3 linked regions of the Homo sapiens genome follow. The protein of the gene in region 1 purifies or fractionates together with the protein of each later gene. This does not show direct contact. Each region holds a gene or a part of one and is shown on either strand. Other genes may lie near its edges. The genes, in order: DAGLA, SEZ6L2 and SLC35A5.

The links.
Region 2: the proteins of DAGLA (region 1) and SEZ6L2 fractionate together in Homo sapiens (co-fractionation; one large-scale study listed by BioGRID). This does not show direct contact.
Region 3: the proteins of DAGLA (region 1) and SLC35A5 fractionate together in Homo sapiens (co-fractionation; one large-scale study listed by BioGRID). This does not show direct contact.

The regions. Positions count from the first base shown.
Region 1 is NC_000011.10:61,732,276-61,735,926, forward strand, and holds part of DAGLA (diacylglycerol lipase-alpha), read left to right. Parts: intron 1-2,573; coding exon 2,574-2,727; intron 2,728-3,285; coding exon 3,286-3,369; intron 3,370-3,463; coding exon 3,464-3,541; intron 3,542-3,651. UniProt on the Homo sapiens protein: Serine hydrolase that hydrolyzes arachidonic acid-esterified diacylglycerols (DAGs) to produce the principal endocannabinoid, 2-arachidonoylglycerol (2-AG).
Region 2 is NC_000016.10:29,870,508-29,873,104, reverse strand, and holds the end of SEZ6L2 (seizure 6-like protein 2 isoform 5 precursor), read left to right. Parts: intron 1-361; coding exon 362-400; intron 401-578; coding exon 579-696; intron 697-821; coding exon 822-918; intron 919-1,376; coding exon 1,377-1,406; 3' UTR 1,407-1,946; downstream 1,947-2,597. UniProt on the Homo sapiens protein: May contribute to specialized endoplasmic reticulum functions in neurons.
Region 3 is NC_000003.12:112,578,994-112,582,644, reverse strand, and holds part of SLC35A5 (UDP-sugar transporter protein SLC35A5), read right to left. Parts: intron 2,100-3,651; coding exon 1,319-2,099; intron 1-1,318. UniProt on the Homo sapiens protein: Probable UDP-sugar:UMP transmembrane antiporter involved in UDP-alpha-D-glucuronate/UDP-GlcA, UDP-GlcNAc/UDP-N-acetyl-alpha-D-glucosamine and UDP-N-acetyl-alpha-D-galactosamine/UDP-GalNAc transport from the cytosol to the lumen of the Golgi.

The sequences.
Region 1 (3,651 bases):
CGCCCTCCCTGTCCTCAGAAAGCTGGGTGGCTCTCGGGGCCTTATTCTCACCATCCCTCCAGCGACTGATCAGAGAGGACTAGAGCACCTCATGCCCCCTTCCCATCTTTGTCAGCTGCATGTGCCTGGCATTCTTGCCTGCATCCCTGGGAGTCCCAGCTGTGGCAGAGAACTCTTCAAAATGAGCACCAGGCTCCATTACTCACTGGTGGTGTGGGGACAGCTCTTAGAGCCTTTGTTTCCTAAACTGTAACAGGTGGTATCTGTCCTGCCTGCCCATAGGGTGTTTCAGAACCCAGGGTATCACTGGCAGGCAGGGCTCTCTGGTGCTCTGCAGACAGGAGGGGTGCTGGCATTTGTATTAGGTGCCTTAGTGTTGCAGAGAGAGCAGAGTCCCTAGACCTCATGAGGGCCCAGCCAGGCCCCTGCCTGGAAGAACCAGGTGCCTGTGGGGCAGAGAGAGGCAGGCCTGCAGCCCAGGGTGTTGGGAGGAGGCCAGAGTCCAGTGCCCCAGCCTGTCCATAACAGCCTGGCCAGAGGGAGAAGGGCTGCCCATCTGCCTCGGGCCCAGGCCTCTCCCCTGGCAGCAGTTCTCAGCCCATGCAGAGCACAGCGAGCCAGGCCTGCTTCTGGCTTGGCCCTAGCCCTGCCCTGGATGAGCCCCAGGGCCCTCCCATCCGGGGTGCTGGCCCTGCTCCCCTGACTGGTCCTCCTGGCCCACACATCACTGACTCAGAGGCAGCCCTGTCACCGGAGAAGCGAGGAGCCACTCGTTATTAAGAACCTATTATAGGCCAGACCATTTCTGCATCTTGGACCCTTGATCTCACACCAGCCTTGTGAAGTAGCTGTCACCACCTGCTCTTACAGAAGAGGAAACTGAGGCTTAGAATGGCTGAGTGACCTCCAGGCCCTTGCGGTCAGGAAGTGATACAGCAAGGGTTCAAACTCAAGCCTCCAGTCTCCAAAGGCCACACTGTTACAGCCTCATGCTCAGCTGAGGTTGGAGAGGGAACAGCTGCCGAGCACAGGAGCTCAGCCCCTAGACCCTGGCCCATCACCACTTGACCTGCAGTGTGGGGGACCATGCTCTCCCATTGTACATCGGCTTTGTCCCCCCAGCAAGCACTGTGGCTTTCTCAGCAAAGTCTCTCCCCATTGGAAAGTGTGTAATAGTCACTCAGGTGATGCTCTGAGTGAAGACAAACCTCCTAGCATCACCAGAATCCAAGCTTCTTAATAAAATCTCAGCTGTCATCCCGTGACAGCTGGCAGGCCCAGTCACGTGGGCTCCAGCGTCTGGTGCCTTAGCAGTTGGATGCTGGCTCCCTCTGGTGGCCTGAGGTGCCGCTGCACCTAGCTGGGTGCCCAGCTCCCAGGCTGCCTCATTCATTTCTGTGGGGAGGCTACTGTGTACCTGGCCCTGTTTGGGTGCTGGGGATACAGCTGTGGACCTCTCTGTGGTGCTCACTGCCCAGCGAGGAGGCGGACAGCGCATAGACAAGGCAAATAGGGCACATGGTGGAGCGGATGGGCACTTTGGACCCACATAAAGCCAGGTGCCTGGGATGGGGAGTGCTGGGGGCCTGGGGAGCCCTGGCTGTTAGATGAGGTGGCAAGAGAGACCTCACTGTGACAGGACGTTTGAACAGAGGCCCAGAGGAGCAAGGGCCAGGCCACGCTGTCTCAGGTGCTGCTGAACACGCTGGCAGCAGGTCAGAGAGACCAGAGCCAGGTGGGGTAGACAGGGCGTTGCTGTAGGGTCTTAAAAAGAAAATGATGTGGCTCAACTTATCTTAAAAGGGCCACTCTGTTGCTGAGCTGAGAGCGTAGGGGCAAGTGCAAGGAGGCCAGTCGAGGCCACCATGACAGTCCCAGGCAGAGCTGCCAGGGCAGGGGTAGGGGAGGTGAGGGAGTGCCTGGAGTCCAGCTCTGAGTCTGAAGGGAAGCCGAGTACGTGTACTGACCGAGTGGCATGGCCGTGGGGGTGAGGGCTGAGGAGCCACAGACAGTTGCAAGCCAGAGGCCAAGCCACCGAGGGGCCTTGGGAAGACCTCAGGAGGGTTGGGGTACACAAGCAGGGAAGGGGTTTGAGAGCTGGCAGGGTGTCAGGTGTCCGAGAGAGGTGCTGGCTAGGCCATTGGATGGAAGCATCTGGGTGTTGGGGCAGGCCTGGGGTGGATTCCTGAGCATGCAGATGGTGTCTAAAACACAAGACTGCATGAGTGCATGGAGGAGCCAGTGCCCCCAGAGGGACCCCAGGGCTTCAGTGTTGGGTGCATCGCTGAGTAGGCCCTGCCCGGAGGGGAGATCCCAGAGAGGAGGGGGCCCCAGCCAGGTGGGGAGAGGGAAGGGCCCACAGGGTCAGGTGCCGCCAAGAGCTCAGTTAAGAGGAAGGCTAAGAGTGGCCAGTGGATTTGGTGACGTGGGGGTCACTAGGACTTAGCAAGGGCAATTTGGTAGAGGCAGTGGGGCTGAATGCCCAACTGGAACTGGTTCCAGGGACAGTGGCAGGAGACATTTGTTCCCTCGGGGACTCCCTGGCCCTGAACTCTCTTGTCACCCCACCCTAGGTGTTGCCTGTGTCCTGCGAGGCCGCGGTTCGCCCCTGGAGTCACCATCGAGGAAGACAACTGCTGTGGCTGTAATGCCATTGCCATCCGGCGCCACTTCCTGGACGAGAACATGACTGCGGTGGACATCGTCTATACCTCCTGCCATGATGCGGTGAGGCCGGGCAGGGCTGGGGCCTGGTGTCAGGAGCAGGCAGCTGAGGGCCTAGGGTGCTGAGGCTATCCTTCCAGGCCGGCAGGAGCCCTTGCTTGGCTGGTGCTGGCTGGCTGCAGCTTCCAGGCATCCCTAGCTGGGCAGACCAGAGGTGGCCCCCTTCTCTTCCCCAGACCCTGGCTTGCCTGTACCACCTCTGGGGCTGGGAAAGCAGACATCAACCCCACACCCAGTGTTTGGGTTGCCGAGCCCTAGCCCTTTAGGGAAAGGAATTGAGGGCAGAAGCAGGGAGGGGCAGCCATCACCTGGACTCAGGGGCAAGTGGTGGCACTCAGGGCTGCCAGAGCCAGCAAGGAGCGGGGAGGGCAGGGCAGGCCTGTGGCTGGGATCGGGAGGAGATCCCCAGTGACCCTGGGAGCCCGTCAGCCTTTCTGGCGGCAGAGGCTCCGTGGCTGGTGGAGCCAGAGTTCCTGGCCAGGAAGGAGACCTGCCTAGGTCACTTTCCCTGAGTGTGGCCCCACCAGGGCCGCTCAGGCTCACGAGCTGCCCGCCTCCTAGGTCTATGAAACGCCCTTCTACGTGGCGGTGGACCATGACAAGAAGAAAGTGGTGATCAGTATCCGGGGGACCCTGTCCCCCAAGGTACGCTGCCCATGGCTCCCAGCCCCCGGGGGTGCCTGCCTCCCTCTTCCTGTCCTCTTTAGCCGCCCCCTCACCTGTCTCCTCTCTCCCCAAGGATGCCCTGACTGACCTGACGGGTGATGCTGAGCGCCTCCCCGTGGAGGGGCACCACGGCACCTGGCTGGGCCACAAGGTAACCCACGTCATGGACCCCAGGGCCCCTGGGCTTCTTTCCTGCCCTGCCAGTGTGCAGAGGCGTGTATGGTTGGGGGTTCCTCCCTGCTCGCTGGGCTCACTGGAAGA
Region 2 (2,597 bases), on another chromosome or scaffold:
CACGGGTGTGTCCAGAAGCCCTGGGTCGTGTGAGGTCATGGGATTGGCTCAGGGGTGTAGTAGAGGGGGCCTTGGCTTGGAAGTCCCTTGCTCTGAATAGGCCTCAGTTTCCCTATCGCTGACAAGTTCTAGTTTGGCTCAGACTGTCCAGGAACCCTGACTTTTTAGGGGTCTGGAGAAAGAGGACAAAGGCCCTGTGCTGGTCACTCCTCTCTCTTCCCCACAAAGGGAGAAAGTTGAGGTTGAGCAGAGGGCAGAGAGAACCAGGCTGTCCAGCCCAGCCCCACCGGGCTCCCGGCCCCTCCCAGCCTCCTCCCCTCCCTGGCTCAGACCCCATCCCCTCCCCCTCCTCTCCCTGCAGTTGCCTATGAGGAGCTCCTGGACAACCGAAAACTGGAAGGTCAGTGAGAGCACAGGTGGAGACCCAGGCTGGCCAGGTTGGGAGGGCAAGGCAGAGGCTGGGGCAGGAGGCCAGGCCTTGGAGGGATGAAGCCCAGGGTTTGAGGCCCAGGGCAGGAGGCTGGGAGAGCCCAGGACCGGGCCCAGCCACAGCTCACCGGCCTCTCCTCCTCCTGTAGTGACCCAGACCACAGATCCATCACGGCAGCTGGAAGGGGGGAACCTGGCCCTGGCCATCCTGCTGCCTCTAGGCTTGGTCATTGTCCTCGGCAGTGGCGTTTACATCTACTACACCAAGTAAGTAGCCTGCTTGGGGACTGCCGGCCAGGGCAGACGTCTTGCGAGCCTGGCACTGGAGCCTGGGTCAGGGGAGCTCAGGGGCTTACCTGTTGATAAGCTCCTCTGTCCTCTCCCTTTCCCAGGCTTCAGGGAAAGTCCCTTTTCGGCTTCTCGGGCTCCCACTCCTACAGCCCCATCACCGTGGAGTCGGACTTCAGCAACCCGCTGTATGAAGCTGGGGTAAGCACCTTGCCTGCCCCTGAAGAGCCACCACTTGGCTCTCCCAGGACTCCATAACCTTCTCGCAAGGTCTCTGGAATCTCTGTCTTGGGAATTTCAAACTCAGCTGCCCCCAGAGGCCATGTCAATGAGCATAGCAAGCCATGTGTATACAATAGGGAGTGGTGAGGACTGTGGCTAAGTGGAGGACTTGTGCCCCATCTCAAGAATACGGCTCTACCCCATAGTCGAAACTGAGGCACAATTGGCAGATCTTCCAATTATTCAAGACAAGCCAGAAATTCAGATTTTTGTGTCATTTTACGACACCGTAGGATGAACCAAACACATTCACTGGCCCCCCAGCCCCTAGAGGTCAATGTTACTTTAAAACCCAGGATCGTTGCCCCTCCTCCCATTCGGCTGCCTCTTCCACCCCTATCAGACTCCAACAACTGACCTGATCTCTCTGTCTTCAGGATACGCGGGAGTATGAAGTTTCCATCTGAACCCCAAGACTACAGCTGCAGGACCCAGGACGCCCCTCCCCTCCTCATTCGGGCAGAGGGAAATACGGGACCCGGTCTCTGCCTCCTGGCTGCCCTCCTCCCTGGCTGTGTAAATAGTCTCCCTATCCCACGAGGGGGCTTTGATGGCCCTGGAGATCCTACAGTAAATAAACCAGCATCCTGCCGCCCAAAGCCGCCTCTTCTCAGTTGCCAAACGAGGGGCCTGCCCCCCGCCCTACCGGCTTTTGGATTCTGGGAGGGGAACTCTGCCTCCCTGCAAATCTTGCAGCCCCTCCTGCCCAGGGCACCCCTCAAGGACTGCCCCCGATAGCTCTACTGTTCCCTTGGCCACGAAGGTGCCCCCCTCCCAGATGCCCTGGCCCTAGGCCTGACTCCGGCCAGGAGGGTCAGAAGAAGGACAAAGGGGAGAGCTGGGACAAGGCCTTGCCCCCTTCCTGCCATCTCCCCAACCCACAGTCTCTCCACCTTTGCTTCTGAATTCTTGTTTTTGAGCAATAAACAGAAAATCGCCACTTGTAATTGGGCCGGTGGAGTGTGGGGAGGTGGTCACCGAGCACTGGACCACTTCTCTGGAGAGAGGGCTGGGGAAAGGGGAACAATTTGAAAAAAAAAAAAAAAAAGGAAATGCGAAAGTGGGCAGAGGGCAGTGTCCGGGGGCCTGGCCTGAGGTAAAAAAGCCTGGCTTTAGGCTCAGCCTCTGTGAAGGCCTCCCTGCGACCAGCCTCACTCCAGGACGCAGTGACCTCTCCACCAGGCCTTCCTTGACATTGTGGGCCTCTTCCAGATGGGAGAGAACTGACAGGAGCCACCCGTCTTCTCTCGCTGCTGGGCAGGAGGCAAACAGCTTTCAATTTCTTTCTTTTTAGAGACAGGGCCTGGCTCTGCCGGCCAGGCTGGAATGCAGTGGTGCCATCACAGCTCACTGCAACCTCAAACTCCTAGGTTCAAGGGATCCTCCCGCCTCAGCATCCTGAGTAGCTGGGACTACAGGTGCAAGCCATGGTGCCTGCCTAATTTTTAAATTTTTTGTAGAAATGAGATCTTGTTACGCTGCCCGGGCTGGTCTCGAACACCTGGCCTCAAGCAATCCTCCTTCCTCAACTTCCCAAAGTTCTGGGATTACAGGCGTGAGCCACCAAGCCTGGCTTTTCAATTTGTCTTATGACCAGT
Region 3 (3,651 bases), on another chromosome or scaffold:
TAGAACAAAACTGGAAATGTAGCATTTTTAAAGGGAAAACCTTACTAACAAATCACTGGTCTTACCTCATTAAGCTATAGATATAATCTGGTCAAATTAAATAAATACTTATGTTCTTGGAAAGTTAACTATAGAAGTATGAGAGGATAAAAAAGTGAAGTGTACTCAGTACTCAAAATTTCAAAGCTAACATGAGCAAAGTGAGGAGCACCACCTGCTGGTCTTGCAGAAAAATGATTAAAGGTTACAGAAATAGGTCTTCATAGGCCTTGTTACCTATATAGATTTTCTTTTGCTTAAAAATTAGAGCAAATGGCATTATCGGCTGTTGGAAAAGAATACAAGACTTCTGGATATACACTCTGGCTAAGAGCAGGGTATCCGAAACTCAAGATCCTAATTTTTTCATCTTTAGAATCTGTTGAATCATGACAGAGGCATTACACCCAGGGAAGCTCTGCTATGAATGTTATTAAGCAATAGATTATTTTTCCCAAAGAGTGAAATGTTCACTGTATAAAATATTTCATATTTTGTGTGCTCAAGAAAATTGTAAATCTAAAGCTAGATGTCTATTTCACTTATTTAAACGTATATTTAACTCCTTAATTGAATCTTCAAAGAGATCATTAACTTGCCAATAAAATGATTGACAGAGCCTTCCAAAACAATTGCAAGCAACTGGGAGATATTCGGAATAATTGCATAAGCATTTTTCTAGAAAATATTTTCCTCCTACTCGCCTTGCAAGGATCCTCTTGAAAACTACCTTTCTAGTGAAATAAACAAACCCTGCCCTTCTGGCATACTGGCTTATGAATAACCACAGGGAGGACTGAGGAGCCAGGCTTTCTATTCAACAGGACTTACTAATACGAAAGGCCAACTTCTCTCACAAATGAGCTTATTTTCCCTAACTATGGTGGAAAAGAAAGAGAAAGGGACTTGGAGTCAGACATAGGTGTACCAGTTCTTTCATTTATTATCTGTAAACCATTTTGCCTGTTTCTTGTAAAACTATGCAGACAGGACAAGACAACCTGTGAGGTATCTTCCAGGTGTATAATTCTATAGTATTCTATGAAGTAACACATAAGGTCCTTGAGATTGACTTATACTTTTTCTCTACACCTGACAGCATTGATTATGAGCCCTTGCAAACATCAGGAGTAAAAGGAATGTTTGTTGATTCGGTTTTAAAAGTCAGAGATCCAATACATTCTTTGACAAATCAGTACTGATTTTATTTTTTTCCTTGAATTAACTATGCTTTAAATTTGGGAAGAACAAGCAAAAAGGAACACCCTCACAAACTTACCCCACTGGAACGCTCCCAAAGATTGCCACTTAGATCTCGGATCCTTTCTTGCCTAGGTGCGTATTCCGGAACTTGAGGCTTGCTGGCATTATAAATAAATATAGAGAGAAGGACTGATGGGGCTTCCAAGAAAAATTCCAGGGAGGGCCTGAAGTCAAAGACCAGGACAGACACTGTTGTGATAATGACAGTGGTAACCTGGGCCATCAAGACATGGAACATGTTATCCAGGAACTTCAGAATGAAAGCCACTGAAAGGCCCTGGAATGCAGTTACAAAAATAAGGGCTACTGAAAATGCACTGTGGCCATAAAAAAATCCACAGTTCTTAATCTGATCACGGTTACTCCTCTGAAGGCCCAGAGTCAGCCCATTAAACAGAATGCCAAAGAAATAGAGTTTGCTGTTCTGTATGAAGATGCTTTCAGTGAGCTGGTTCCCTTCCTTCAGTATCTTTTCATTATAGATATTAGCCATTGAAGAAATAAAACACTGGACTATAATAAGAACATGGCCCATGCCAAGACGGATGTGACTGAAAACTCTGGCTGTGGTGTTCCATTTAGCTTCAGGAAAAGTCCATTCCTTTGCTGTACAATTGTCTTTTCTGGGACACTCACTTCTGAAAAGAAGGCAGGAATTGGAAGGGCTGAAAAAGGCATCGTGATGAAATCCACGTCCTGCCAAGTTGTGCTGTAAAGTTTTAGTCCCGGCAGTCAAGGCCACAATAGACAAAAATAAAGTCAGGAGGGAAGCCCACTGGATCCAGTTTAGACGCCTCCTGTTCAAAGATGAAAAAAAAGATTTTACTACTGTTTTCCCCCCATATCAATAGTTTCTACTGAAAACTCAGACACTTGAGTATTTGGTTGAATAAACTGGACCCAGTTTTTGCTAGCATTTCCTACCACTCAAGTTCAGAGAAAAACTGTTGGTGCCTGTCTCTCAAATTTAATGTTTTAATTCATTTTTATAACACCTATCCCCTAAGGCTGCTCAAGTCATTTCCCTTCTGTGTAGGTTTCCTTTTAACCTACAAGTTTAACATGGCCTCCTTTCTACCTCTAGAGGTATCCTGGACCTCTGGCACAGTAACTTTTATTGTACTATAAAGTTACAGCAGAGATTCTCAACCTGGTTTCCCAGAACCAGAAAGAATGTAGATGAGCTTCAGAAATGTTGTGTACAGATGAATTTCCCCCTATGCAGGAGATCCTGCAAAGCTTTGTCAAATCTTTAAAGGTGTCCATAACCCAAAAAAGATTTAAAGGAGAAGGTTAGCTCTAGATCCATGTCCTAATCGTAGAGCATTAAACAGCAAACTGCTGGCTGACAAGCCAAAGAAAAATGTTATTTTGGGCAGTATTTCAGTTTACAAAGTCCTAACAATCCTTTGTTTATTTTCCTTAGCAACAAACTTGTGAGAAATAAAGGACATGTACTATTATTATTCCATTTTGCTGATTCATTCTATTCAACAGATGTTTAATAAGCAGCTACTACGTGCCAGGCAACCTGGGGCGATAAAGATGACTTATCTCCATGTTCAAGGAATTTATGCTTTAACAGTGAGAAAACAATGAAACTAAATGATTTCAGTATGTGTGAAAAGTGATTAATGGGACAAGTGGAGTAAACTGAGGAACACTACAATCTGTAAATAGTCAGGTATTGCTTCAAAGAGGAAATGACACTTGAGCTAGAAGATGAAAAATTAATTGAAGTTTATCATGTGAAAAAGGAGGTGGTGATATATCCAGGCAGAGGGAAGAGTCTCTATGCAAAGGCAACAAGAATGTACAATGTTGACAAAGAGGAATATCTCACTTTCATTGGCGTTGTCAGGAGGCCTCTTGGGGGAACAAAATCTTGATGTTTGAAGATCAGTTAGTTAGGCAAAGAAGGGGAACACCGAGAAAAAAAGAGGAACATAAAAAATGCAGAAGTGTAAAGCAATAGGTGGGAACCAGAAGTGAGAATTTTTATATCATTGGAGCATTTATTGAGCACCTACCATACACTTAGGCATTTCCGCTCTAAGGGAGGAAACAGTTAACCTAACAGATTTCCCTAAGGTCATGTACTTAAACACTAAAGAAGGGATCGGATCCATGGTTTTGTATGTCTTCCTTCTGCATCATCACACCTCCTAAGTATAATTCTAAGTTTCCAGGATGCACATATAGGAAGTTGTGTGCATATAAAGCTTCATGCTCTGAAACTGCTAAATGCACAGACTAGCCTAGATAGCAGCATACCTGTGCACACTATTATATGCTTTCTCATATGTATGTAATTTTCAAATAGCCTGATCTAGAACTTACTGATGGCGT